Linked DNA regions of Homo sapiens: all the other regions are linked to region 1. The links come from fine-mapping of genetic effects on gene expression. A gene starts in region 1. Each other region holds a variant in brackets. All regions are shown on one strand. Distances are between the middles of the regions.

Region 1 (5,575 bases):
CCATGGGCTGCGGAATGGATGCTGTGTTAGCAGGCATAAAAACAACATCAATCTCCTTCTACATCTCCATCAGAGGTCTTGAGGGACTAGGTGCATTGTCAATGTGCAGTAATCTTTTGAAAAGAATATTGTTTTCTGAGCAGTAGATCAAAACAGTGGGCTTAAAATATTCAGTAAACAATGTTGTAACAGCTGTGCTGTCACCCAGGCTTTTTTCATTCTAAAGCACAGGCAGAGTAGATTTAGCATAATTTTTAAAAGGGCCCTATGATTTTCAGAATGGTAAATGAGAACTGGCCTCAATTTAGTCACCAGCTGCATCACCCCCTAACAAGAGTCAGCCTGTTCTTTGAAGCCAGGCATTATCTTCTCCTCTCTAGCCAAGAAAGTCCTAGATGGCATCTTCTTCCAATTTAAGACTGTTTTGTCTACACTGAAAAAATCTGTTGTTTAGCACAGCTGCCTCCATAAACTCATCTTAGCTATATCTTCTGGACTTCTGGATAACTTGCTGCAGATTCTACATCATCACTTGCTGTTTCACCTTGCACTTTTATATTATGGAGACAGCTTCTTCCCTTAAACCTCATGAGCTGAACTCTGCTAGCTTTAAACTTTTATTCTGCTGCTTCCTCACCTCTCTCAGCATTCACAGAGTTGAACAGAGGGCCTTGCTCTGTATTAAGCCTGGGCTTAAGGGAGTATTTTGGCTGGCTTGATCTTCTACCTAGAGCAAAGTTTTTTTCCTATCAGCAATAAGGCTTTCTAATCATTTGTGTTCACTGGAGTAACACTTAATTTCAAGAACTTTTCCTTTGCAGTCACAACTTGGCTAAGTGTTTGGTCCAAGAGGCCTACCGTGCAGCCTATCTCAGCTTCTGACACGCCTGCCTTCCTCACTAAGCTTAATCATTTCTAGCTTTTGATTTAAAGTGAGAGACGTCCAAGTGTCACTTGAACATTTAGAAGACATTGTAGGGTTATTAATTGGCCTGATTTCAATATTGTTGTGTCTCAGGGCCTAGGGCAGCCTGAGCAGGCAGAGACGATCAGAGCAGTAATCAGAACATACACAACACATATCAATTAAGTTCACCATCTCACATGGGCACAGTTCATGGCACCCCAAAACTACTACAATAGTAACATCAAAGATTGCTGATCACCGTAATAGATACAATAATTATGATAAAGTTTGAAATATTGCCAAGAACTATCAAAATGTGACTCAAGAGACATGTAGTGAGCACATGCAGTGTGAAAAATGGAACTGGTAGATTTGCTCCACACAGAGTTGCCACAAACTTTCAATTGGGGAGAAAAAAACACGCAGTATCGGCAAAGTACAACAAAGTGAAATGCAAAAAAAACAAGGTATGCCTGTATATGTCTTTACTTGACAAAATAAGCAGTCAGATACTATGTATGGTAACCCCACAGTTTTTAATTGAGCCACGAAATCCCAGGGTCTGGATATCACTGATCTATTTATTCAACTTTTTGTTTTTTTTTTTTTTTTTTAACATAAACTCAGACCCCAAGGTTTCTATAAACTCACACCGAACCAGCTGCGGGGTAGGGATTAGAGAGAGATCTCCAATCTTCCAGGTTCAAGTTCTCCACTTCATTAATAGCATAGCCACCAGCTTTTGCAACGTAAATACTGAACTTTACACCCATCTTGTAAAGTATGAATCGAAGGTAAGTGTATTAAAGGAATTATATGGTAAATTCTTCTGTAATCTAAAAGGGATCTAGTTTTAAATGTTGGATTTTTCTAAAATAGGATTCACCCACACAGTATTTCCTTGGTATTGCTTCACATTTCTGGTGTGAAAGAGTAACGGCTGCTCTTACAACTGTTTGTTTTTGTTTGTTTTGGGACGGAGTCTCACTCTGTCGCCTAAACTGGAGTGCAATGGGGCAATCTCCGCCTCCCCGGTTCAAGCGATTCTCCTGCCTCAGCCTCCCAAGTAGCTGAGACTACAGGCGCCCACCACCACGTCCGGCTAATTTTTGTATTTTTAGTACAGACGGGGTTTCAATAAATTGACCAGGCTGGTCTCGAACTCCTAACATCGTGATCCGCCTGCCTCAGCCTCCCAAAGTGTTGGGATTACAGGCGTGAGCCACTGCGCCCGGCCACAGATGTTTAAGAGAAGAGAGGGGGGCAGTCTGAGTTCTACTTACACACATTTAAAAATCAACACATAATGTGAGCTTTCAAAAACCGACCGGAAGTAGATGGAGGTACAGATGTGAAAGAACTGCCAAGAGTTGGAATAATTGTTAAAGCTGGGAGTACTTGGAGGTTCCGGGATACAGTACTAGTCTCCTTATTCCTACTTGTTTTTTTGGTAAGTCTTTGAAATCTGATGCACTAAAGAGTTTTTTGTTGTTGTTTGCTTAAGTATCCGAGATGAGTGGAATCCAGCCAGAGGCCTTTCTGCAGAAAACCAAGACGAAGAGATGTCAGCGTCTCCGCCCCGACAGAAGCAAGCTCATACCTATGCTTGCCGCGACAACCGCATAGCTCAATGCGACTTCAAGCAATCAGCGGCCAGACCCAGGGAGACCATCCGGCAAATTCCGGGAAGCAAGAAGTCCCATCCCTAGCTAGAGCTACAGCCCAGACGTTCGGTCCGCTAGCTAGGAGGCCTCAAGCTGGACCCCAGGCGGCCCCTGGCTCTCTAGATTACTCACCAGCCTCGCTGTAGGCCAGGCGCAACACCCGGCCCAGCGTGGAGAAGGCGCACCGCGGCTGGCACAGCTCCTGGCCGGCCACCGCGAACGCCTCCACCTTGCAGCCCGCCGCCACGAAAAGCGCGTCACGCCCCCCGCCACAGAACCGGTCCGGCTCCAGCTTGCAGGGCACCACCTGCTGCGACCCGAACGGGTGCAGGTTGTACAGCTGCACCATCCCGACGTCCGGCGGGATGGCACAGCCTGCCCGCCCTGCAGGGCGCCCGGAGACCCCGCGCTGACCGCGAATGTAGGACTACTTCCGCGAGCGAGCCAATGACGCCGGGTCACGTGAACGCCAGCCGGCCCCGCCCGCGGCTCCGCTACTTAAAGAGGCCGCCGCGGGGCGTGGCAGGCGTCGGGAAAGCGGTCACGCCAGCCTGGTCAGCCCGCGCTCTGGCGCTGCAGTGCTTTCGGTCTCTGCGCCTCCCACTCCGCCGCGCGAGCTTGCCACTGCTCTATGCTCAGTGGCCGGTGGGTGCGGGGACCGCTGGGTCCCTGCCTTTCGTCTTTTACTGCTTTGGGCCAGGCGGTATGTTTTGGCTTTTGAGTACGTTCTGACAATTCATCATCTATCTTGTAACATTTTGTACTTACTTTGAGGAGCGTTATTCATGTCTCTTCAGTAGTCCCTGAGCTTCTGGAGGATGGGGTTGCAAAAACTGAAATGGGGTGCAACTCGGGGCTAAACACTCTGAAGAGTTGCTTTAAAATAATGGAAATTCTAGAATAGTTCAGCTGGAAAGAGCAAAGCCTTGAACGTGCTTGGCAAAAAGATATTTGTTGAAAGAAAGAATCCATGGACTTCATCTTGTAGGCATTTGACAAAAGACTAGTTTGAGCCCCAGAGGATAGAAGAACTAGGAGGGAAATCCCCTGGCTTTCAGTCCAGTGCTCCTAAAACTATGCAGTAAATTATCTATTCCTGACATCTCAACGTGGAGTTCACGATCGCAACACTTTCCCTTTTCTAAAAAAATCAGATTTAGATAAAACAAGTAGTATAACTTTGTCCAGTTCACCTAGAAAATATATGTGTTAGCATGGATTGAGGGATGCTGTTTTATTTAGGCACACAGGGACATAAATGAAAGTGCAACATTTTCTTCAGTCAGTTTCCAGTTCAGAATTTGTAAATTAGATGCAATTGGATTGAAGTTAAACTTGCCTCCCTTTCCTAGGCCCTTCAGATGAATAAAGTACCTCTAAGTAATGGGAAACAACAGGTTCGTCAAACTCAGTGAGTTAGAGAAGTAAACATGGAGGTAGCTCAGGTCAGGAACTAGGGCTGCAAAAAATCACAGAAGGCTCCTATGGAAAACAACCAGACTAATAGTCCACAAGTTATTTGTTCTAGATACAAAACTTAAGAGCAAATATCAAAATCAATAGTAAAAAAGATTCCTTTCCACAAGTATCTGCCATATTATTCTTTTTGGCTTAATTTTCTTCTTCAAGACTTAATTATCCTAATTCAATTTTCTCCTAATGAAGACTGATATTAACTTTAGTGTAATTTCACCTGCATAAAAAGAATGTCTGTTTTGGAGAAAGAAGTGAGATTTGCTCAAAACCTGGAACCCCATTCCTTCCTAGAGATAGTGTCTTCTTCCTTGCTGTAGTCACTGCACCTGACTCATCTAAGATTCTTTGGGAAGAGACATGCTACCCAAGGGAAGGTGGGGCATGTGTCTGGTTTCCACGTTTGTCAGGAGCTGTGAGCAGGAGCTGCCCACTTGTATTCCTGTTACGAATGCAGGGGCAGCAATGGCACACCATCAATTCCTTGCGGGAGGTTGCATTTGTTTGCAAGGGCTGCCATAACAAAACACCACAGACTGGGTGGCTTACACAATAGATATTTCATTTTCACAGGTCTGGAGGCTAGAAGTCCAAGATAAGATGTCAGCAGGTATGGTTTCTCCTGAAGCCCCTTCTCCTTGGCTTGAAGATGACTACCTTTTTATTATGTGTTCCTATGGTCTTTCCTCTGTGTGCCTGCATCCCTGGTGTCCTTCCCTTGTCTTATAAAGATACCAGCCATATTAGATTAGGACCCACCCTTATGATCTTATTTAACCTTAATTATTTCTTAAAGGCCCTATCTCTATATACAGTCACATTCTGAGGTATTGGAGGTTACAGATTCAACATATGAATTTGGGGGGAAGACACAATTTAGCCCATAGCACATGCACTTAGGGTAGCACTCTGTTGAAAAGGGTTGTCTTGAGAACTTTCTTCCTTCCTTCCCTCCTTTCTCTCTCTTTCTTTCTTTTCTTTCTTATTTAAAGAGATGGGGTTTCGCTCTGTCACCCAGGCTGGAGTGCAGCAGTGTGATCATGGCTCACTGTACCCTTGACCACCTGAGCTCGAGCAATCCTCCCATCCCAGCCTCCAGATTAGCAGGAACTATAGGCACATACCACCATGCCTGGCTAATTTTTAAAATTTTTGTAGAGATAGGGTCTCACTATATTGCCCAGGCTGATCTTGAACTCCTGGACTCAAGCGATACTCTCACCTCAGCCTCCCAAAGTGCTAGGATTACAGGCATGAGTCACTGCACCTGGCCCTAGAACTTCTTTAAGCTGTATTTGCTGGGGAGATTGAGGGTGCTATGTGGGTAAAAAGCTCCCCCAAGTTTCTTCTAGGTGACAACACCACTGGGGATGGCTACAAAAATGGTTCTGCAACAACATGGACAAAGAGCTCTACTCAACCAGCCTAGAAAAGAAGGATTCTGGATCTCTGGAGCACTGATTTCCTATCCCATCTGTGAGGTACCTCGGGATATCTGCATTGGTCTTAGAGAATGTGTTGAGAAAGTCAC
Region 2 (7,974 bases), 360 kb before region 1:
TCAGCTCAGCAAACTTGGAAGCAATGTGACCTGTGTGACTAGCAGCAGAGGGGTGTAGCTAGCACTGATTTGGCCTGGGTGGTGCAAGATAAACACTTCAGCAGTGAAGCCAGCTGCTCCCATTGGTGGGTCATTTTTGCTGTTACCAGCAATGTTGCCATTACAAAAATCTTTGACAGATGCGTTCTTAACACTGAAGCCCACATTTTCCCCAGGAAGAGCTTGCAACATGGTGCATTTCAACAGACTTTAGTTGTAACGTTGACTGGAGCAAAGGTGACCACCATGCTGGGTTTGAGAACACCAGTTTCCACTTAGCACATAGGGACCAATGCCACCAACTTTGTAGACATCTGGAGGGGCAGATGCAAGGGCTTGTCGGTTGGATGAGTTGGTGGTAGGACACAGTCCAGACCTTCAAGCAGCATGGTTCCATTGGCATTGCCATCTTCATGGGTGACTTTACATCCCTTGAACCAAGGCATGTTACTACTTGGCTCTAGCATATTGTCACCATTCCAACTGGAAATTGGTACAGCTGCTGCTGTGCTGGGGTTGTAGCCAATTTTCTTAATGTAAGAGCTGACTTTCTTAATGATTTTCTCATGTCTCTTCTGGCTGTAGAGGGGCTCTGTGGAATCCATTTTGTTAACACCAACAATTGGTTGTTTCATCCCCAGTGTGTAAGCACGAAGGGCATGTTCATGGGTCTGCCCATGGAGATATCGGCTTCAGATTCACCAACACCAACAGCAACAATCAGGATAGCACAGTCAGACTGAGATGTGCCTGTAATCATGTTTCTGATAAAGTCTCTGTCCTGAGCATCAATGACTCATGCAGTACTTGCTGGTCTCAAACTTCCACAGGGTGATGTGTCACACTCACACTCATCTTACCATTTATTCAAGACCCAAGCATACCTGAAAGAGCTCTTTCCCTTCTTAGCAGCCTCCTTCTCAAATTCATCGATGGTTCTTTGGTGATTTATATCATGTTTGTCGATCAGTTGGCAAGTAGCAGTGGACTTACCTGAATCTACGTGTCCAATAACGACGATATTGATATGAATCCTTTTCTTTCCCATTTTGGTTTTGATTTAGGGGTGGTTTTCATGACACCTGTGTTTTGGTGGCAAACCCGTTGTGAAAATGCCTTTTTTTTTCCAACATGAAACACCCATCTTTCTGTTCTGCATTTTTCCATTTAGTCCTTTCTATCTTTACAATTTTAAAACTTGGTAATTATAAAAGGTTATAAAGATGCAATATTTTCCAGGCACACTTTATGAAGAAAAGATCCTGAGGTGAAAGAATTGGCAATCCTGAGTTTCGGGCCTCTTTGGAGAGCCTGCACAGCAGTGGCATGACAGCACCTCCTGGTGGTAGGATTTGTGAAACGTTTACGGCGAACGTAGAAGCAAGGATTGAATTTGGTTGCCTGGAGAAATCATGAGTTCCACTCCTGCTGCAGCCTCACCCCTCACAAACCACCACATAGCCACACTCAGGCCCTTCTTCTCTCCCTTCAAACTCTCTGGTTCTGGCAGTCTTTGAGAGTCTGGCAAAAAAGCCTGTGTTCACGTTCAGTTTGATCACTGTGTCCAACTCCCCAAACCCAGGGAGAGAGGGGTCCTCAGTTTTTCATGGACCTGGCAGTGAAGCAAGGAGAGCAGAAGCAGTTTAGATGCACTTAACTGACATTTTAAAGCATCCAATTATTATGCAGGTATTTCCACCTGAGCTGTAGTAATCCCATCAAAGTGGGAGCAGAAAGGCACGAATTTCACAGAACTCTCTTCTCAGCTGAAGACAGAAACCAGGGGGCCTGAATACGAATGCTTTGCTGGCGCGCTCTGTCTGGTGAATTCAGATGCCACCTCCTCTGGGAGAAGCTCCACAATGCTTCTGCCCTCAGCCTGGGTTTGGTTTCCTTCTGTGCTCCCCAGCGCTCTGTGTTTCCGCCCCTGTTGTACAGAGCCCCTGGACCCTGCGCTGCCATCACCTGTCCATTTGTTTGTCCTCTCTTCAGGACGATAAACTTCCAAGGGCAAAGACCATGTGCCACTGTCTCTGTCCCCAGTTCCAGCACAGGCAGTGCTTCATAAATAGCAGCAGCTCTCATTTCCTGGGTCCTCTAGTGCCAGGCTCTGGGCTAGCTGCTTTCCATCATCTTTCCTAATGCTCCAAGGAGATGCTACTTTATTTGAACAGTGCTTGGCATAGAGTAACCTTCAGTAAACACTCACTGAATGAATGAACATATACCCATTTTACAGATTAAGAAGGTGAGGCTAGTAAATGGAAGTGCCTGGGTTTGAACTTAGGTCTGTCTGACTCCAAATCCAGTGCTCTGACCCATTACACAAATGCCCTTTGTTGGAGTAGTTATTTCCTTAGCATATTTGAAATGATTTATTTATGACATTTGATTTATACATCTATAATAGTATGTGAATCAAGGGTTACTTATATCACAATAAAGAGGTTTTTTTTGAGCCTTATTTATGCCTGGTTGAAATTAAGTCACAGAATCATTATAAAAGCATAACATTTTTAAAGTTTTAATGCATAAAAATAAATTCCATTTACCATAATACTTTATATTCATAAAAATGAATAATAAGGCTGAATCAAGCAAGTATGTGGTAGGAACTGTGCTGAGTGCTTTATGTACCTTGTGTTATTTACTCTTACCTGAACCTGTGAGGTGGATGTTGCTGTTACTCCCATTCATTTCACAGATGAAGCCTGAGAGATAAATGGTATATGGCAGAGGTGTGGCTAGACCCTAAGTCAGCCAAGGGCAAAACTGGCTCCTAACATTTGTGAACTGTTTCTGGTTCATGAAAGCTAAGATTACATGGTGCAAATCCAATCTCATCCTATTAAGGTGGCTTTCAGCTCTTGGGAATATGTTTACAAGCAGCTTATGATGTTCTTTGCTAATAAGTAATTTCTGAAGTGCAAATCCAGATGGTCTTAGCTGAATGTCAAGGCAGAACATTTAACTGTGTTCAGTTCAGTGTCTCGGTGTCTGAACCACAGATGTGAGGGTGCTCTCCTTGCCCTTGACTCTTTCTAAGGAGGTAAAGAGTTGCAGCCTGGCCCAGGAGTGCCATGCATAGCCCCGTCCCTCCCTGACTACTGACCACTCCTGGCTCATCCTCTGCTTCCCCTCCTATGGCTGTCCCCACACCCTGTGCAGGCTGCTTTCCTTTCAGCAGCTCAGGGTCAAGGGAGGGATGGCCAATTGTCTCAGGGAGGAAGACCTTGGATGGGAGGAGGTTCTACTTCAAAGGAAACCAAGAGGGTATATTTCAAAATGCCCAGGTTTCTTTTTCCTTCTAGGGTGTTCTTTAATATGGTTCTCAGGACAGAATGAGTTAACTACTTTTGCTCCCTCCCTTAATATTATCACCAAAAAACATTTCTGAGGAAAACAGTGCTAAATGCTATGGCATTGCAGAGCCCTGGATTTTGTGCACTAAGTTCGAAATCTCAGAGTCCACCTTGATTACCTTCCTCTTTTCTCCTCACACCTAAACCTGATGACTCCATCTCAAACATTCTCTGAAATTTGTCTTTTTTGAGCCCCAATTCTGCTGCCTGGGTGATGTTCATCATCTTATCTGGATTATGATGCCAGCTTTTATCTCTCTTTAGTTCCTGAATCCTCCTATTCACTTTCCACATCACTAGAACCATCATGCCTCTAAAAGTCCAAAGTAGCCATGCCATGTCTTGCTTGAAGTCCCCTGCTGTGCCCTGATGTCCTGAAGGTCTGGCTGCCTCTCAGTCTCACCACATCGTGTGGCGGCCCCTTCTGCAAATCTCTCCTCATTCACACTGAGCTTCTGCCACACAGTGCTCTGAGGTTCCCTGAGCATGTCAGCCTTTTCATGCCTGAAATGTGCTTCTCCTTCCTCACTGGAAGGCAAACTTCTGCTCATCCTCCAAAATCAGCCCATGTCACCTTCTCGAAGAAGTTTCCCCC[C/T]GCACTCCTTCTCCATCTCACACTTTCTGCATTATGAGGATCTGTTCCATGTGTTCACCCTAACCCATATGCTGATAGGAAAGGAACCATGTCTATTCGTTTTTTGTTCCATGTTTGAGATAGGCTTCAGCACAAAATAAGATACTGACTACATATATATATGTGTGTGTGTATATATATGTACACATATATAAAAGTAGATATGTGCATATGTAGATATATAAATGTGTGTGTGTGTATATATATATATTTTTGTTTTGTTTTGTTTTGTTTTGTTTTTTGTTTGAGACAGGGTCTGGCTCTGTTGCCCAGGCTAGAATGCAGTGGCATGATTATGGCTTACTGCAGCCTTGACCTCCTGGGCCCAAACGATCCTCCCACATCAGGCACCTGGAGTAGCTGGGACTGCAGGCATGCACAACCATGCCCAGCTAATTTTTTAATTTTTTTTTTTTGTAGAGGGGCGCTGGAGCAGGGAGTTCTCCCTATGTTGCCCAAGCTGGTCTTGAACTCCTGGGCTCAAGCAATCCTTCCACCTCAGCATCCCAAAGTGCTGAGATTACAGGCATGAGCCAACACTCCCAGCTAATTAAAAAAAAAAATCCTTTTACTAATTACTAGCCATGGAGCCCTGGGAAAATTAACCTTCTTGAGCTTCATTTTTCTCCTTCAGGGATAAAAATTCTTCTCAGATTTATGAGGAAGATTAGGTGAGATAATGCACATAAAAACACTTAGCACTTACTCACTGGGAAGAAAAAGAAGGAAAAGGAGGAAGAGGAGAGAAAGAAAAAAGAGAAGGAAAAGAAGAAAAAGAGGGGAGGGAAGAGGAAGAAGAACAAGAACAAGAAGAAGAAGCAGTTGCTACCATGGCTGCCCTTTGGTAATAAGGGACAAATGACAACTGTCTTGAGTTTTCTTGTTTTTGGCTCATACAAGTGACTGATCCTTTCTACTCTCTGAGCAGCTGTGTATGAGTGTTAGGTTTGCAGCTATAACAACAGTTACTATATGCTTATGTGGATAAGAAGAGTCCACACACCCTTTTTAACTATCAGATACCAGTATAGTACTGTATAGTAAAAGGAGTAGGAGGTAGAATCCCATGAGTTTTGCCAACAGGGAATCTAGGCAAAAAGCAGACAATATGAGTCAATATAAACTGTGTTCTAGAAAAAGCACTGTGACTTGGAGTGAGAAAACTTGGATTTGAGCTTCTGCCACTAAGAAACTGTATTCCTCTTGGCAAGCCACTTGTCCTCTCTGGGCCTTGGCTGTCCTGCCTCTGAAGGAGAGTTAAACAATCTCATAAACTTTTTGTGAGGATCAAATGAAACAATATAGGTGACAGCACTTTGTTAACTGAAAACACCAAGCAATAGAAGTTTCAATTATTGCCATAAGAAATTCAAGGTGAACTTCTGCAGTTAGAGGGAAGATTTGGAGCTGGCAGTAGTAGATAACATCAAAAAGGAATGTGAGCTCTTGTCTCAGAAGGGAGGAAACAGGATTTGAGGAGACAACAGAATGCTGCTGAAGGTTTGCCAGATGGCAAAGAGGGTGCAGTGAAACCTGGGCCCATCCCCTGAATGCCCTTCCTGTAACCATCATGGCATATTTTATACCTTGCACAAAGAGCAGTCTTACATCTTACAAGGGATTAAATTAAAACATAAGTAGTCAAAATCATTCTTAAATAGCCTATAAATCATCTGGAAACTGTGATATATACGGTTTTGTAATACATCCCTGTACAGTAATTTTTTATCACATTATAGTTTGAAGCAGCTGTACAGATGTCTCGGTGTTCAAATCATTCTCCCTTCAGGTAATTATCAAAGCTGTACAGTGAACAGGAGATAAATAGAGAATTCTGAAATGTTCCCGCTTGCCTGCAAGGTTTACCCTATTCTGTTTTTATTATCAAATCTTTATAATCTGGTACCTGTTCTTGATGCTGGTTAGTTGCTGTTGTGAGGGGTAGATAAAATAACATATTTGAAAGCATCTATTACAGAGCAATACACAATAAATGGCTGCAATGAGAATGAAAACTTGCTTCTCCAGAAGTACTAATATGAAGAACTTCCAAAAGTCGTTTCCTGTCCTTCCCTCAGTTTGGCATTTCGTGTGGTGACCCACAGGCCAGCTGTCACTCCTGATCTTGGGCATTGATCCCATCCCATCCCAAGTAGGGCGTGCGTGTGTGAGGGGAGGGTGTTAGTTCCTGCAGTCAGAACATGTGAGGCCATTGTATGGCTTTGGAGTGTTTTTTGGCATCTGTTTTGTTTTCTTTCTCCCTCCTTTGTTTTGGACATAGATTTATTTCAATTGACTTTAAATTCCTAGGGTAGTATTATTCACATAACAGAAAAAATAGAAAAATATGTTTACTGTGGCACTGATGTTGCTGGAATTAATAGAGGGCTCCTTGAAGAAAGACATAATCTGTAGCTTCACACACACACCCCTAGGTGGAGAGAGTGAGCTGTCAGGGGAAGAGCCTCAATGGGGGCGGGTTGTGGGGGCTCAGCCTGCTGGGATCTGAGTTTGATGCTCAAGCAAGCCAACCCCATGGTAGTGTAGCCCCAACAGTCCTCTCTGCATGATAAGAGGGCTTTTCACACAGTAAACTAAATGTATTTGGAAACCGCTGCACAAGGTATGAGGATGTTAGAGACCTTGTATTGCTTAACTATGAGAAAGATGGGGATATTTCATGTGGGACGTCTGTGAACAAACCAAGACCATGTATCACAGAGAACTAGGCCCCTTCACTTCCCCAGCCTGAAGCCTGTTCTTAAGATTCTTTAGGATCTCACAGTAAATGAATACGTAGAGGTTTGAGTTAATATATTGGTGTTCTACAGATTTTTTTTAGGCACAAATCCATTCTTCATGTGCAGAAAGACCCTATAGTTATATTTCCTGACTCTGTGGGATGTGCCAGTCACTGTCAGGCAGAGGGGCTGAGACGGTGAACAAAACAAAAATGCTCCAAGCCCCCTTGGAGGTTAAAGTCTAGTGCAGCTTTGCCTAACAGATCCATTTACCATGATGGAAATGTTCTAGATCTGTGCTATTCAATACAGTAGCTACAAACCCTATATGGCTACTGGGTACTTGAAATATGGCTAGTGTGATTAAGGAACTGAATTTTTAACTTTATTTCTATAAATGAATTTGAGTTTAAATAGCTCCATATGGCTGCTGGCTACTGGACTGAACAGTGCCGTCCTGGTCAGTGCAGGACAGGAGGATGTGTACTATGAAAGGCTAAGACTTGAAGTCAGAAGTCCTGAGTTTGAGCCCTGGCACTGTCCTCAACTAACAATGTGACTTTGAAGCTAGTTAAGCTTATTAAGCCTGCCTTGGCACAGAGTAATTACCTCTTGAGGTTACTATGAAGATTAAATTATAAATTTGTGGGATAAAGGTCTTTACAATCTACAAAGTACCATGAAAACATGAAATGTTATTTTAATGAGTCTATTAACATTAACATGAGAAACCTACAATGATTTCAATGTCATTTTCTGTACATTTGCACTTAAATGATTGTTTAATTATAGGCAATTTGGGGTATTAATGAAAGCCCTTGGGCCCAGTTAGTGGTTAATTATTCTTGTTTTCTATTATGAGATTTGTAATGAAAACTATTACTCTGTTTATTAATATTATTAGTTGCCTTGTGTTGCTGCTAATAAATATTTGGGTGCAAGTGATGACACAACAAATCTCTTCCTTCCCTCAGGCCAAAGGAGGCATCCGTCCTCTTTTAGTTATTTCTCCTGGGGTCTGTCAAAGGAGCAATTAGAGGTGAGAGCCTATGCAACTTTGCTGTATTCCACAACTCCATCTCTGCCTCAAAGGAGCACCGAGCCTGAGGCTTGCATAAGGATGAAGACATGGCATTGTGTGCAGTCTCCCCTTGGGCAATTTATCTGCCCATGCCCCTTGTGGTGACAGGTGGGCATT
Region 3 (7,974 bases), 230 kb before region 1:
ATAACAGCAACAATTTCTTGAGTCCCTTCAGTATGTCACTTATTGTAATTAGTTTTACACATACTATTCCACTGAAATCTCTCAGCAGCCCTAGAAGGTATTACTTCTCTCTATTTTATAGACTCAAAGCTCAGTGAGGTTAAGTAATCTGTCCAAGGCCACATCTTTAGCAAATGAAAAACACTGTAGCAAAAAAAAAAACAACACTGATTTAACTCCAAGTTGGTGTAACATGAACACGGTGTTTTCCCTGCTCCTCTCCTCTGCCTCATCTACCTGCTCTGCCACCAGGGCCCAGGGGCTAGAGTCTTCCTCCTATCCTACACTGGCACTCAGATACTCCACCCACCTAATGGGGACTTTGACAGGCCCCTGAGAGCCTTAGTCATCCCTATCCTAGAGCCTAAGTTTGAGTGACTCAACATTTCCCCTTGTTTGTGAATCTTTTAATAGTAGACATTGTCATCACCTGAAGGAAATAGCTTACACAAATTACCTTACACCCTCCTTAAGTTCTGTTTATAGCCTACGCTCCTGGTTTGTAATATTCTAGGCCTTTCAATTTGGCTGGAAACTCCCTCAGGGGTTGTACTAAAACAGCTCATTCTTACCTGACAACATTAAAACAATAAAAATTACTGTAGAATCTGAATCACTTGAATAGTACACGTGGCCTCTGAGTGTCAATTTACCATAGTGACCAAATTTACAAATACATTCCTACATAAAGGAAATCTCATGCACTGAAATCTCAGACAATTGATAGAATGCTACCTTTACCACAGTATGAGTTTCTTGTATGTGTGTGAGATCTTTTTCATTGTTTTCTCTGATGCTTACCCATGGTGAGAACAGGTATGGGATTTGATGCAACTTTTCAGAAAAGCCATTTGGTGATCTGTGTCTACAATATATAAAGCCTACACATCCTTTAGCCAAGTATTTTTACTTGTAGAAATTTATTTTAAGAAAATCATCAAGGATGTTCACAATAGTTCAGTTTCCAGTAATAATTATGGGAGTATTGTTTGTAACACCAGGAAAAATGGCAAGAGCCTAAATCTCTGATAACAAGGAATTGGTTTGATAAATGTAGTCAGTGGCTGTTAAATCAGGGTAAATGTATGAACCGCACAACATTACATGAAAGAGAAAGTTTCGAAAATATAGAAAAGAAGGGTTCTATGTCTTTCTCTACTAGGTATATGTATATTATAAATACCCTTTAAATATATTACTGAAAAGGAATTTCAATCAGATTCAATGTGATTTTTGTCTTGATTCATTTCGCTTATCTATACTTTCTGAAATTTCTACCATAAGCACATATTACTTTTAGAAATAAAACAAAAATGAGATGAGAAGAAAGATTCAGTCCTAAAATAATTCAGGGAGGAGCCCGCAGTCTTTAAGGGAAACTCCCCAGGTATGTAAGAAAACCATTGTTCTTGTGCTTGGACAGAGGAGTCATCCTACAGTAAATACAGGGGAATAATTATGCCTGCAATTAGGTGAAGGGATGGGCCAGGTGAGGCTGGCAGTAACCATAGGCTAAAAATATAATGGGGAGCCTATAATTTCAATTGCATGTTTGGGAAATGTTAAGTGCACAGTTTCTTCTTAGACAAGCCACCAAGTAAGATTTTTACAAATATCAACCATGTATCTGTTTTCTGTATTTTAAAACGAAATGGCATACCTTTACTTTGAACATTGGCTTTTTATCAGGGCTTTGTGTACTACAGCTTGGATTTTCCTTATTTTAATTTTCTCTGCTCACTGCAACCTCTGCCTCCTGAGTTCAAGCGAGTCTCCTGTCTCAGCCTCCCAAGTGGCTGGGATTACAGGCTTATGCCACCATGCCTGGCTAATTTTTGTATTTTTAGTAGAGACAGGGTTTCACCATGTTGGCCAGGCTGGTTTCGAACTCCTGACGTCGTGATCCTCCCACCTCAGCCTCCCAACGTGCTGGGATTACAGGTGTGAGCCACCCTACCTGGCCCTCCTTCTCTTAACATTAAATAGTTTGTGTATGCAAGTCCTGGCAAATTTAGACACATATTTTAATTATTGTAGTTAAATAAGTCTACTAGGTTTTTCTGGAGCTAGATTTCATGTTACTTCCTAGAATCAATTATTTGCTCTCATTTCTCTCTCTCTCTTTTTCTCTCTTTCTCTCTCTCTCTTTCTCACACACACACACACACACACAAACACACACACACACACACTTTCCTAATATACAGCAATTAAAAAGAACAAACTACTGCTGCATGAGACAACGTGGATGAATCTTGTAAATAATGAGAATCAAGGCCAGGCGCTGTGGCTCAGGCCTGTAATCCCAGCACTTCGGGAGGCCAAGACAGGCGGATCACCTGAAGTCAGGAGTTCAAGACAAGCCTGGCCAACATAGCGAAACCCTATCTCAACTAAAAATACAAAAATTAGCTGGGCATGGTGGTGCATGTCTATAATCTCAGCTACTGGGAAGGCTGAAACAGGAGAATCGCTTGTACCCAGGAGGTCGAGGTTATAGTGAGCCAAGATGGCACCACTGCAGTCCAGCCTGGGTAACAGAGCGAGAATCTGTCTTAAATAAATAAATAAATAGAATTAAAACAATCTCTCCTCCCTCCCTGCCCCCCAATTCTGGATGTAATCTCAGCTAATGTAGCTAACTCCTTGAGACAGAGACAGTAGATCTCTTATGAACATTTCACACACAGATTTTCGTATAGGAGCAATAATAGTTTCCCAAGAGGTGCCATTTCAAGTACCTGTGATCAGTCATTGCAGCCTGCAACTAGAAAGCTCTGTGTCAAGCATTACACTAGCTACTAATCCTCACCACACCCCTCTTTGTTACATGTGTACAGATATCCTTGATTCGTGTGCAAGACTAAGGGCCAATTGAAATGGCCACTACTGTCTCAGATGATAGATGATATCCATATAATAAACTGTCATATATTCAATACATGAAAGAATCCCACAAATATTAAGAACCCAAACCATCTACTCCCTCCTCCACCAAGACTCACATAACTTGGGCAAGGAGAATCAAAACCATAAACTGCTCCACAGCTTACTGTTAACATTCTCATGATTTTATTATTCCATACTCTTCTTGAGCACAGTTTTACTATTCCAGGAGACTCTTTCCTAAGCAAATAACTTTATTATTTATTATTGGGATCTCTGAAAGATCCACCATCTCCTCAATAGAAAACATCAACAGTTTATATCTCAAGAGCCTTTGAACCACCAACTCAAAGTCCTGCCTTGCTGTTTCCCCCAGTCTTAAACAATCGTATCATAATCTTTACTGAAGGCTTCCTGTCTTTGGGTTTCTTTTTTTTTTTTTTTTTTAACACCATGACCAAATAGTATTTATTTCAGGTATCAAAGTCTGGTGCAACATTTGAAAATTGAGTAATGTAATCCATCACACCAACAGGGTATAGAGGAAAAATCACAGGATTATATCACTAGATATAGAAAAAGTATTTGACAAAATTCAACACTCATTAATGATAAAAACTCCCAGCAAGCTGGAAATAGAGGAGAACTTCCTCAACTTGATGAAGAACATCTATGAAAAAGTAGCTAACGTAATACTTAAAGGTGAGGAACTAGAAACTTTCCCACTAAGACTGTGTACAAAGCAAAGTTATCTCCTCTCACCATTCCTTTTCTTTTTGTTTTCGTTTCTTCTTTTTTAAGTTTTTTCATTATTTTTTTTATTTTTTATTTTTTATTTTTTT[T/G]TTATACTTTTAAGTTCTGGGGTACATGTGGGGTACAATGTTCTGGGAACAAAGAGGGGTATGGTAGGAATTAGTAGCAAGTGGAATGTTTGACACAGAGCCTTCTAGTTGTAGGCTACAACTAGTGAACATAGATATCTTGAAAAAGCACCTCTTACAGAAATGTAGTGCTGTTTCTATACAAAAACCTATGTGTGATTCCTTTGAATTCATTGACATGAAAAATAAATAAATAAATAAATAAAAATAAAACACAAAACTTGTGTGTGAAATGTTTCAATGGGGTAGAATAATATCCATCATTCTATTGATGGACATTTGAGTTGCTTTCAGGGATCTTAGCTGTTTTCAGGGATCTTAGGAAATATGCTGCTGTGGTCATTTTTGTACATGTCTTTTGGTGCATTCGGTGCGTATGAGAACACATTGATTTTTGTTTGTTTGTTTGTTTGTTTGTTGTCAAGGAATCAAACTGCTAGTGGAGCTTCTTTTGTTTTGTGTTAGTTAGCATCCCAAGGTTCCCAGAGTTTTCCTCTAGCCTAGCACTCTCAAGGTTTGGCTCATCTCTTCCTGCCTGGGGGACTTCCAGTCACTCACTGATTCAGTATTTATGGATTGTTCATTGCATGTCATGCACTGCACAAGGTGCTGAGGACACAGCTGTGAACAAGATTTTCCAGGCTCTGTGAGAGCAGAGACCTTGACTGTGTTGCTCACTATTGCATTGCCAACTTCTAAAATAGTGCCTGGCATATAGTAGGTGCTCAGTAATCCGGGGTCAGCAAACTATGGCCCACGGGACAAATCTGGTCTGCTGCCTGCTTTGTCAATGGAATTTTATGGGAATACAGCAACACTGTTTTGTTTACATGTTGTGTATGGTTGCTTTTCCCCTATAATGGCAGAGCTGAACAGTTGACAGAGACTACATGTCACACAAAGCCTGAAATATTTATTCTGTGGTCTTTTGCGGGAAAAGTTTGTTTCTAATGTAGCTGGCTATTTGCCTAGATAAAAATGGATACTTCTATTACAATGGAAAAGGAGATAAATTTTTGTTAATTTTATACTTATGATAGAAGTTTTCCAATATATTTTTTAAAATAAAGAAGTAAAGAGGGGAGAAACTGAGCCTGATTTACCCACCACCCAGCTAGAAGAACATATGAGTTTCCTAGGGCTGCCAAAACAAAGTCCGACAAACTGGTAGGTAGCTTAGAAAAACAGAAATATATTGTCTCATGTTTCTGGAGGCCAGAAGTCTGAAATCGTGTCAGCAGGCTCATGCTCCCTCTGAAGGCACTGGGAAAGGATCAGTTACAGACCTCTCTCCTAGCTCCGGGAAACGTCAGACATTCCTTGGCTTGTAGATGGTCATCTTCTCCCTGTGTCTCCTCACATTGTCATCCCTCATGTCTGCCTCTCTGTCCAAATTTCTTCCTTTTTATAAGGACACCAGTCATGTTGGATTAAGGCTCACTCTAATGACTTCGTTTTAACTTGATTACCTCTGTGAAGCCTGTATTTCCAAAAAAGGTCGCACTCTAAAGTGTATGGACCTCAACATGTCTTTTTTAAGAAGACACAACTCAACTCATAACAGAGAAAGAGATAGCAGTCTCTGAGACCTCAGTAGCATCTTCTGAACTAAACATGTCTTATGAGACGCCCTTGAAAAAATCTGGGAAATAATATATACCAAATAAATCTTCCCAAAGATTCACTACACACATGGACCTTCCACTAGCTCTGAAAAGTCTTGTTGTAAAAACCTATTTAACTCAAAACATCTGAATTATTTAACTATGAGACCGTGGGGCTACAGCTTTGGAAAGAGAATGAATAGCAGATGTAAAAAAAAGCACAGAGCTGGAAACATAGCAAACACTCATTAAATGATAATAGGTGGAGTTCAGAAGAGTACTTCAACGACAACCAAAAGCTTAGGATGACAGAAGAGAATTCATTACATTATTAGCTGCTGCCTGTTCAGTGGATGGGAACACGGATATGCTTTGTCCGTGTCTTCTGCACTCAAACAGGTCTGCAGGGCTTCTACCCTGTTGTTCTTGCTCCAATTCTCTAGGAAAATACTATGTGTCCTTTAAACAAATCAGCTACCTGGGTTTGTAAGGGGAGTCCTGATTTCCAATGTCACAACTTTGGAGAAAAAAAGTCCTATCGTAGCTGACTTGTAATAGTCTTCTCTAAGTGGGAGAGACAATAGAATTTCAGAGATAGAAATACCGCTCAATATTTCTTAATCCCAGTAATGCTTATCATAGGGTATCCTTGTACATAAGTGTGGGCAATAGTATATTTCACCTACAATCCCCTGCAGAGGTTGAAAAGAGACTTCCATGTACATTTGCCTACGCCTCCTTTTATGCATGGGAGTAGAGGCATGGGCGGCAAGGACATGCTGTGGATGAGGGGCACATAAAGCTTAAGGTTGGAAAAAGACAGAAATGAAATGACATATTAGTAAATAGTTTCTGCAAAGGCAAGCTAGGTGATTCAGTCTTCAGTGTCCCTGGCCAGAGCATCAAGGTGCCCTGTGAGTCAGGCAACCTGAAAGCAATTGGGTGGTTTTTTGTGTTTTTTTTTTTTTTTTTTTTTTTTTTGGCCCAAAGAAGCATCACATTGCAGGTCATCGTGAGTCTCATTTTGCAGAGTGAGAGAAATATCCACATCCACTTTGTCAGGGCTTCTTATGCATGTGAGGGCATCAGGGTTTCATGGTTGTAGAGCCATGCCAGGTGGGAGAACTGGGCTCAGGTACAGAGAAAAAGAATAAGGAGGGCTGCAGAGGCTCCCTGGGCCCTCCTTAACCACCACCCTTTCCATGTTTCCCCATCTTCCACTCTTCCATTGGCAACACTCAGAAACAGGTTTGAAGGTACAGCAAACTAAGCAGTTCCCATAGACCAGAAGTAGGCATTTTTTTCTCCCATTTGGCTTTGTGAATATTAATTTTTTTTCTTTGGAAATTAGTCTCTCTTTAATGTCACAGAGAATTAAATGACAACTGTGTTCTTAATGTCACAGGGAATTAAATAACAACTGTGAAGTACATAGAAAGTAGCTTTAAGTAGCTGAGCAACCATATGATTTGAATAACTGAAGAAACAGGGTGCTGGGCTTCACTCAAGAATCTTTTGTTTGGGTCGTGGTTGCTCATCTTGGACAAGTCACTTTTTCTCTCTGAGCCTCAGTTTCCTAATCTGTAAAATAGAGATTATAATATTATCTCTACCTGAATACCAAGATTGGGATGGTTCAATTAGATCCCATATGAAAATTCATCATAAACTATAAAGTTATGTGTCAGATATGATTACTTTGGCCACAAAAAATTAGAACTGTAGTTCTATTATACAATTGCCTCCTTAGTTCTTGCCCCATTTTCCCCTTCCTCACAGGACTTTGGGATTCTTCTTCCCAGCTTTATTGAAGTATAACTGAATAAATAAAAATTTTATATATTCAAGATGTAGAATGTGATGATTTGATATACATATACATTGTGAATTGATTACCACAATTAAGTTAACACATCCATCACTCCGCATAGTTACCATTTCTGTGTGTGTGTGTGTGTGTGTGTATGCGTGCAGTGAGAACACTTACAATCTACCCTCTTAGCAAATTTCAAGTATACAATACAGTATTATAAACTATAAGCACCATGCTGTACATTAAATCCTCAGAATTTACTTATCTTATATCAGAAAGTCTGTATCTTTTGCCAACATCTCCTGATTTTCCCCACCATCAGACCCCTGACAACCATCATTCTATCCTCTGCTTCTATAAGTTCAACTTCTTAAGATTTTACATATAAGTGAGATCCTGCAGTATTTTTTTCTTTCTATATCTGGCTTATTTCACTTAGCACAATGTCCTGCAAGTTCACCCATGTTGTTGAAAGTTGAAGAATTTACTTATTTTTTTATGACTTAAATATTTCACATATATATTTTCTTTATTCATCTGTCAATGGACACTTAATACTGAAATTAACATGGAAGTATAGATATCTCATCAAGGTACTGATTTCATTTCCTTTGAATGTATTAAACCCAGAATTGAGATTGCTAGATTATATATTAGTTCTAGTTTTATTTTTTTGAGGAAGCTTCATACTGTTTTCTATAATGGCTGTACTCATGTTAAAGGCATTCCCACCAACAGTGCGCAAGGGTTC
Region 4 (5,000 bases), 25 kb before region 1:
TGGACATATTAAACCCTAAAAGTAAACAAAATGGTTATTCACCATTCTGACAAGGGCTTAGCTGTAGGGCTTTTTTCCCACCATCTATGAGCCAGTTTAATACATACATGATTATAAATAATACCTTGTTAAACAGCTCTAATCATTACAGAGGTCCAAATAATACTGTAATACTAATAATACTGTAAACTTAGCAACAATTTGATCTCAGTAAGACTAGTGAACATGTTAATATTTGAAATAAACTTCAAAAAATTGTGATTTAATTCTTTCTCAAATTTAGACTGAGTATTCTTCCCTTATTTTAGTTTTGATTGGTAAGTTTAGGCTCTACTACATCTATTTCCATAACTCATAGAGGGCTCATAAAAATTATCACTAGCTAATCTGACTCAATCAATATATTCAGACTCTAGCGGTCAAATCACCTAAACGAAGACTTTCAATTAAGCAAGACTGAAAAGACAGGGCACAGCTAATATAATAATTGGCATTAAATTATTGGCAGGGACAAATCAGGCAACACCTTGACCTGATGACCAAAAATTAACATCACCAAAGAGGGGTAGATGAACAGCATGTGCCTCCAGATGTGATACCCTTAACACAAAAATCACCTATGCAATATTCTGGCTGAAAATGCATAATCTGAATCTAACCATTAAAAAAAAAAAAGCAAACCCTAAATAAGGAATACTCTCAAAAAAAAAGTAGAGGGGAAAATTATATTTTTCAAAAATGCTCATGTCATAAAACATAATGAAAGGCTATAGAAATATTCCAGCTTCAAAGGAGGCTAAAGAGACATCATAGTTAAACACACTACCTGATCCTAGACTGGGTCTTGAACTGGAGAAGGGGAAATGCTATCAAGCCATTGGGTCAGTTGACAAAATTAGACTATGAACCATAAACCAGATAAAGCACTGTGTCAATGTTAAATTTATTAAAGCATACTACTGTATTCTGGTATGCAAGAGAGTATCCTTATTCTTAGAAAATATACGCTGAAGTACTTAGGGGCAAAAGACTGATGTATGCAGTTTACCTCCCGAAGAAGAATCAGAAAACAGTGTATGTATATCTGTGTGCACAGAAAGCACAGAGTGCATAAAAGAGAGAGAGAAGCAAATAGGGTAAAATGTTGACTGTGGAGAAATCTGTGTGGGGAATGGGAATATATAGAATATTCTTCTTTTTTAAAAAAGAGTCAAAAGAGTCAGGGTCTTGCTGTGTCACCCAAGCTGGAGTGCAGTGGTACGACCATAGCTCATTGTGGCCTTGAACTCCTGGGCTCAAGTGATCTTCCCATCTTAGCTTCCAAAGTAGCTAGGACTACAGGTATGTGCCACCACAACTGGCTAATTTTTTAATTTTTTGTACAGATGGGATCTCACTATGTTACCCAGGCTAGTCTCGAACTCCTGGCCTCAAGCAACTCACCTGCCTCAGCCTCCCAAAGGGTTGGGAAGAATATACTTATTCTTGCAACTTTTCTGTAAGTTTGAAATTGTTTCAAAATAAAGAGTTAAAATAATTGCCAGGGATGAGTAGGAAGCTGTCACTCTTAGATCAGTAAGGATGCTCCCTCTGGGTCCCTCCCCCCAGGACAATGCTGCAGTAGCTGTGGTGCCCTGGGACAATGTGCTAACATTTCTAAATAAGAAGAGTGGGACAGGGATACATAATCCTAGATTTATTTATTTATTTATTTATTTGCTCCATTTCTTAGCTATCTTTGCTAGAGTTCAAATTAAGGTCAAAGACTATGTTCAGATTGGCCAATCGATCTTCTTAGGAGAGTGGGTATGAATAAGGGAGTCTTATGCTAGTGAAGGGAATTTCTACTGGTTCCTCGGATGTCAGAAGCTGTAACAATGAGGAGGCAGAGAGAGATATACATTCCACTGTCAGACAGAGCCAGGAAGCTGAATGGCTGTGGCATCCTGAATGTATGATAATTAGAATCAATTTCTGATCATTAATTTCACTCTAAATATCTACAAACAAGAATCAGAAGTTTGAAAAGAGTACCATCTCTTTGTACAGCTGCACTGGTGAGATCGTATTCACAATATACAAATTCCACCCAGCCTCAGCTACAGGAGGTATTTTGATTTTAACACTGGTATCTTTTCTCGAACTAAAAGCAAAACAAAGGACAAGAATTTTAAAATGACATTATTAATAAATGGTAGTTGTAAATGGTAAATATTGGATATAAAATAACTATAAAATCATTTTCATTTACTATTTTCCTCAGTGATTAACTGTACACTCTATTTCTATGGAATATTAGTTCACAATACTACATAGGCTAACTGCATTTAATATTCTGTAATTTTCATGTAATGATAAACCAACTGCTTCCAATTCACTCTGCAAGTATTCTCAAATGAGCAGTAAGTTCAAAGAACAGGCAAGTCCCATCAAGAGGAAAAGATCCTTGACTGCGGAAGTCCCTATACCCAGGCTCTTTTCTGCATTTGACTTTCATGAGTCTAGCATGCCCTGAGCCACAAATCTAAGCAGAAGCAACATCATGGCTGCTGAGAATATGATGAAGACACATAAAACTGTTAAGTCTGCTTAAAGCACTATCTTATCTCTTGCTTTCACTATGTGATACATTTTCTTTAGTGTACAATCTTTTA[T/A]AATTGTTTATCAAATGAATTTTCAAATGAATTAGAATTTTTAAAACATCATTTAAAAAATTATACTATTAGAATGTCAAATGTGCAAGACTACAAACTGCTTTTCCTCTCCCCAGAAAGCTTTTAGGATCAGTCAGCCCCAGACCACTCTGTGTACACTCAAAGTGATCAGTTACCAAAGTCAACCTCTGATTCCTGTTGATGCAACAAAGCACAGCCACTAACAATTTGAAAAAGTAAAAATCTATGTTAAAAATAACCCATGTTTGATATGAAATACACTATATGCTTCACTCCCTGAAGAGATTTCTTTCTTGATTAAATTTTCCTTAGAGAAATTAGATTGCATTCTCTACCACTAAGTAGGAAAACATCAAATAGAAGCATAACTAGTCTGGAATTAAGCATTCTATTCTAAACAATGGGAAAGCAGAAACCTAATAAATAACAAGAGATGAATGTTATCAAAATACAACTTTATTTTCAGATACATGAGCACATATCTATAGATCATAAATGTGCTTTAAGGTAAGACATACATTATTAATTTCTTTCATAATATCAGAAAATAATTTTAGATAAAAATGTAACAACTGAAAGGGTCAAAGAAGAAAGACAGTAAAAAGTCCTGTAGTTTCAATTAGCATTATAGGCTCAGTCTTTCTCATTAATTACACAGAAAAGCATGGCCTTTAACTAATCTAAAACACCTTTGATTTTTACTGAAACTATTTTATAATCCATTTTCTCCTAAAAGTTTCCAGGTCAGTTATAAAGTGTATTACAGAGATTGTTAGAACCTTCTTTTCTTTCTCTGGAAAAAGACCACCATAAAAAAGCCATTTGATCATTCCAAGTTATGATTTGAAAAAAGATAAACACAAAATATACCAGTTACAACTCATTCCAGAAACTGGCAGGAATGCCTGGGGCAAGGGGATGCTTACAGAAGCCTCTTGGGTGACTGTCTTCTCTCTGGAATGGCTTCAGGTTCTGCTTTAGTCAAAAGTATGATGTGGTTTTTAAAGTGACAGATGGCTTTCAAGCCTATGAAAAGCTGTATTCTTAAAGCACAGACATCCATACTGACAGGTGGGCAAGCCTAGTAAAGGAAAATCACATATTTAAGCAAGAAATAAAGGTACATGCACTTCAATCTTCAAAAATCAGTCAGTTTATTTGATCAAATCTCTTCTGCTGCCACCATCCCATACCCACCACCACCAAAAAACAAACAAACAAACAAAAGACCAACCCAGATTCCTATTCTTAACAGAAGAGGTTATCTAAACCTATGTAACCAATAGTGTATTCCATAGAGCTACTCAGCCAACAAACTCAGTTATTGATTGATTGAATAAATACGGAAAGAGGGTCCCACAGCTGCAGGAACTTGTGTGTGTGCCCCACAGAGTGGCTCCACAGATACCTCCAGGAGATGAAGCTGGTACTCTGCCACCCAGGGAAACCCCCACAACTAGCAGGATGGTTGGGGGTACGCCCAAATGGGGTTTTTAGGAAAAACCAGACACTATGAAAGGACATTCTACTGCTTGTAGAGTACATAAAATGGTTTCTTTGCGGATGTGTGTGTGAAAGAAATGCTTGTATGTTCCGATGGCCCCTGACTGTTAGTCTGTTAGGTACGAATAGTGCCTGGAATGGCGGACAGGCTGGGACATGTCAGGTAAACTAGAGGAGCCAGCCTTTTGCTCTTGTAAAGGACCATTAATTCAAGTAGAATGAATAAGAAAACTAATGGAAGAGCTCTATTCTGGGAGCTCACAAAATGATGCTGCCAGGACCCTGCCTTCTTGTCCATGCATGCTGTTTTGATTCTGAGGTCATCTTCATTGTTACCTCCATGTAAAAATAGTTAAGGTGGCTTGGTTAGTGCTGAGGAGTCAGAATCTCAGAGGAAAAGGAGACAGACCACAAGCACTTTCAACCAGACTCTTGAGGTTGTGAAACTTTTTTCAGACATCACAGCTCCAAAGCCTGAGTCAGCAGGTGGGCTAAACGTGTGCTTGTTTAACTGGCACCTAGGGCTTCAGAACTGGTGGAGTCCCAGGAAAGGAGGAACCGTGAGGTGTGATTATGCCTTCCCCCTCCTACCTCCACTGGCCTCAAGGGCAGCATACCTCCACCAGATGCCCACCTCTCCTTATCCCTCCCCTTTGTCTCTTCCTTGTTCCTTCATTCTGCCTTTTATAAGACTCTGAAAATACATGGAATTATTTTTTTTCCAAAGGTACATTGATCCTACTTCAATCTATTAGGTACTTTAAATTACACCATCACCCCTATATAAGCCTATGTCTTTCTGAGGTTTGAAAACGCAAGGAG

Direction of the effects. Alleles are on the strand shown, and positions count from the first base shown. SD is a standard deviation of normalised expression in the study named. Not every link is listed here.
For the expression in regulatory T cells of the gene that starts at base 3,006 in region 1, T is the high allele of the variant in region 3 and G is the other (small effect, 0.34 SD a copy in Bossini-Castillo 2019).

What was found. PIP is the estimated chance that this variant, and not a neighbour inherited with it, causes the effect. A credible set is the group of variants that fine-mapping cannot tell apart.
Region 2: its variant is the best candidate, but not a certain one, in a credible set for the expression of HPS3 in whole blood (TOPMed, PIP 0.51).
Region 3: its variant is the best candidate, but not a certain one, in a credible set for the expression of HPS3 in regulatory T cells (Bossini-Castillo 2019, PIP 0.64).
Region 4: its variant is the best candidate, but not a certain one, in a credible set for the expression of HPS3 in testis (GTEx, PIP 0.90).

The regions. Positions count from the first base shown.
Region 1 is chr3:149,127,069-149,132,643 of GRCh38, reverse strand. It overlaps HPS3 (HPS3 biogenesis of lysosomal organelles complex 2 subunit 1), which reads right to left and starts at 3,006. Exons shown (of 17, transcript NM_032383.5): 1 at 2,704-3,006. The coding sequence starts at 2,920. RefSeq lists enhancers at 2,465-2,964, 2,746-3,005.
Region 2 is chr3:149,487,773-149,495,746 of GRCh38, reverse strand. All of the region lies in intron 3 of TM4SF4 (transmembrane 4 L six family member 4), which reads right to left. It also overlaps the pseudogene EEF1A1P45. Among named protein-coding and RNA genes, the nearest start is that of TM4SF4, 17 kb to the right of the region's middle. RefSeq lists silencers at 1,303-1,452, 6,091-6,385. The variant C/T (reference allele first, on the strand shown) is at 3,997.
Region 3 is chr3:149,359,684-149,367,657 of GRCh38, reverse strand. No RefSeq gene overlaps it. Among named protein-coding and RNA genes, the nearest start is that of TM4SF1, 14 kb to the left of the region's middle. The variant T/G (reference allele first, on the strand shown) is at 3,768.
Region 4 is chr3:149,152,250-149,157,249 of GRCh38, reverse strand. It overlaps HPS3 (HPS3 biogenesis of lysosomal organelles complex 2 subunit 1), which reads right to left. Exons shown (of 17, transcript NM_032383.5): 7 at 3,602-3,756; 8 at 2,035-2,143. Among named protein-coding and RNA genes, the nearest start is that of HPS3, 25 kb to the right of the region's middle. The variant T/A (reference allele first, on the strand shown) is at 2,655.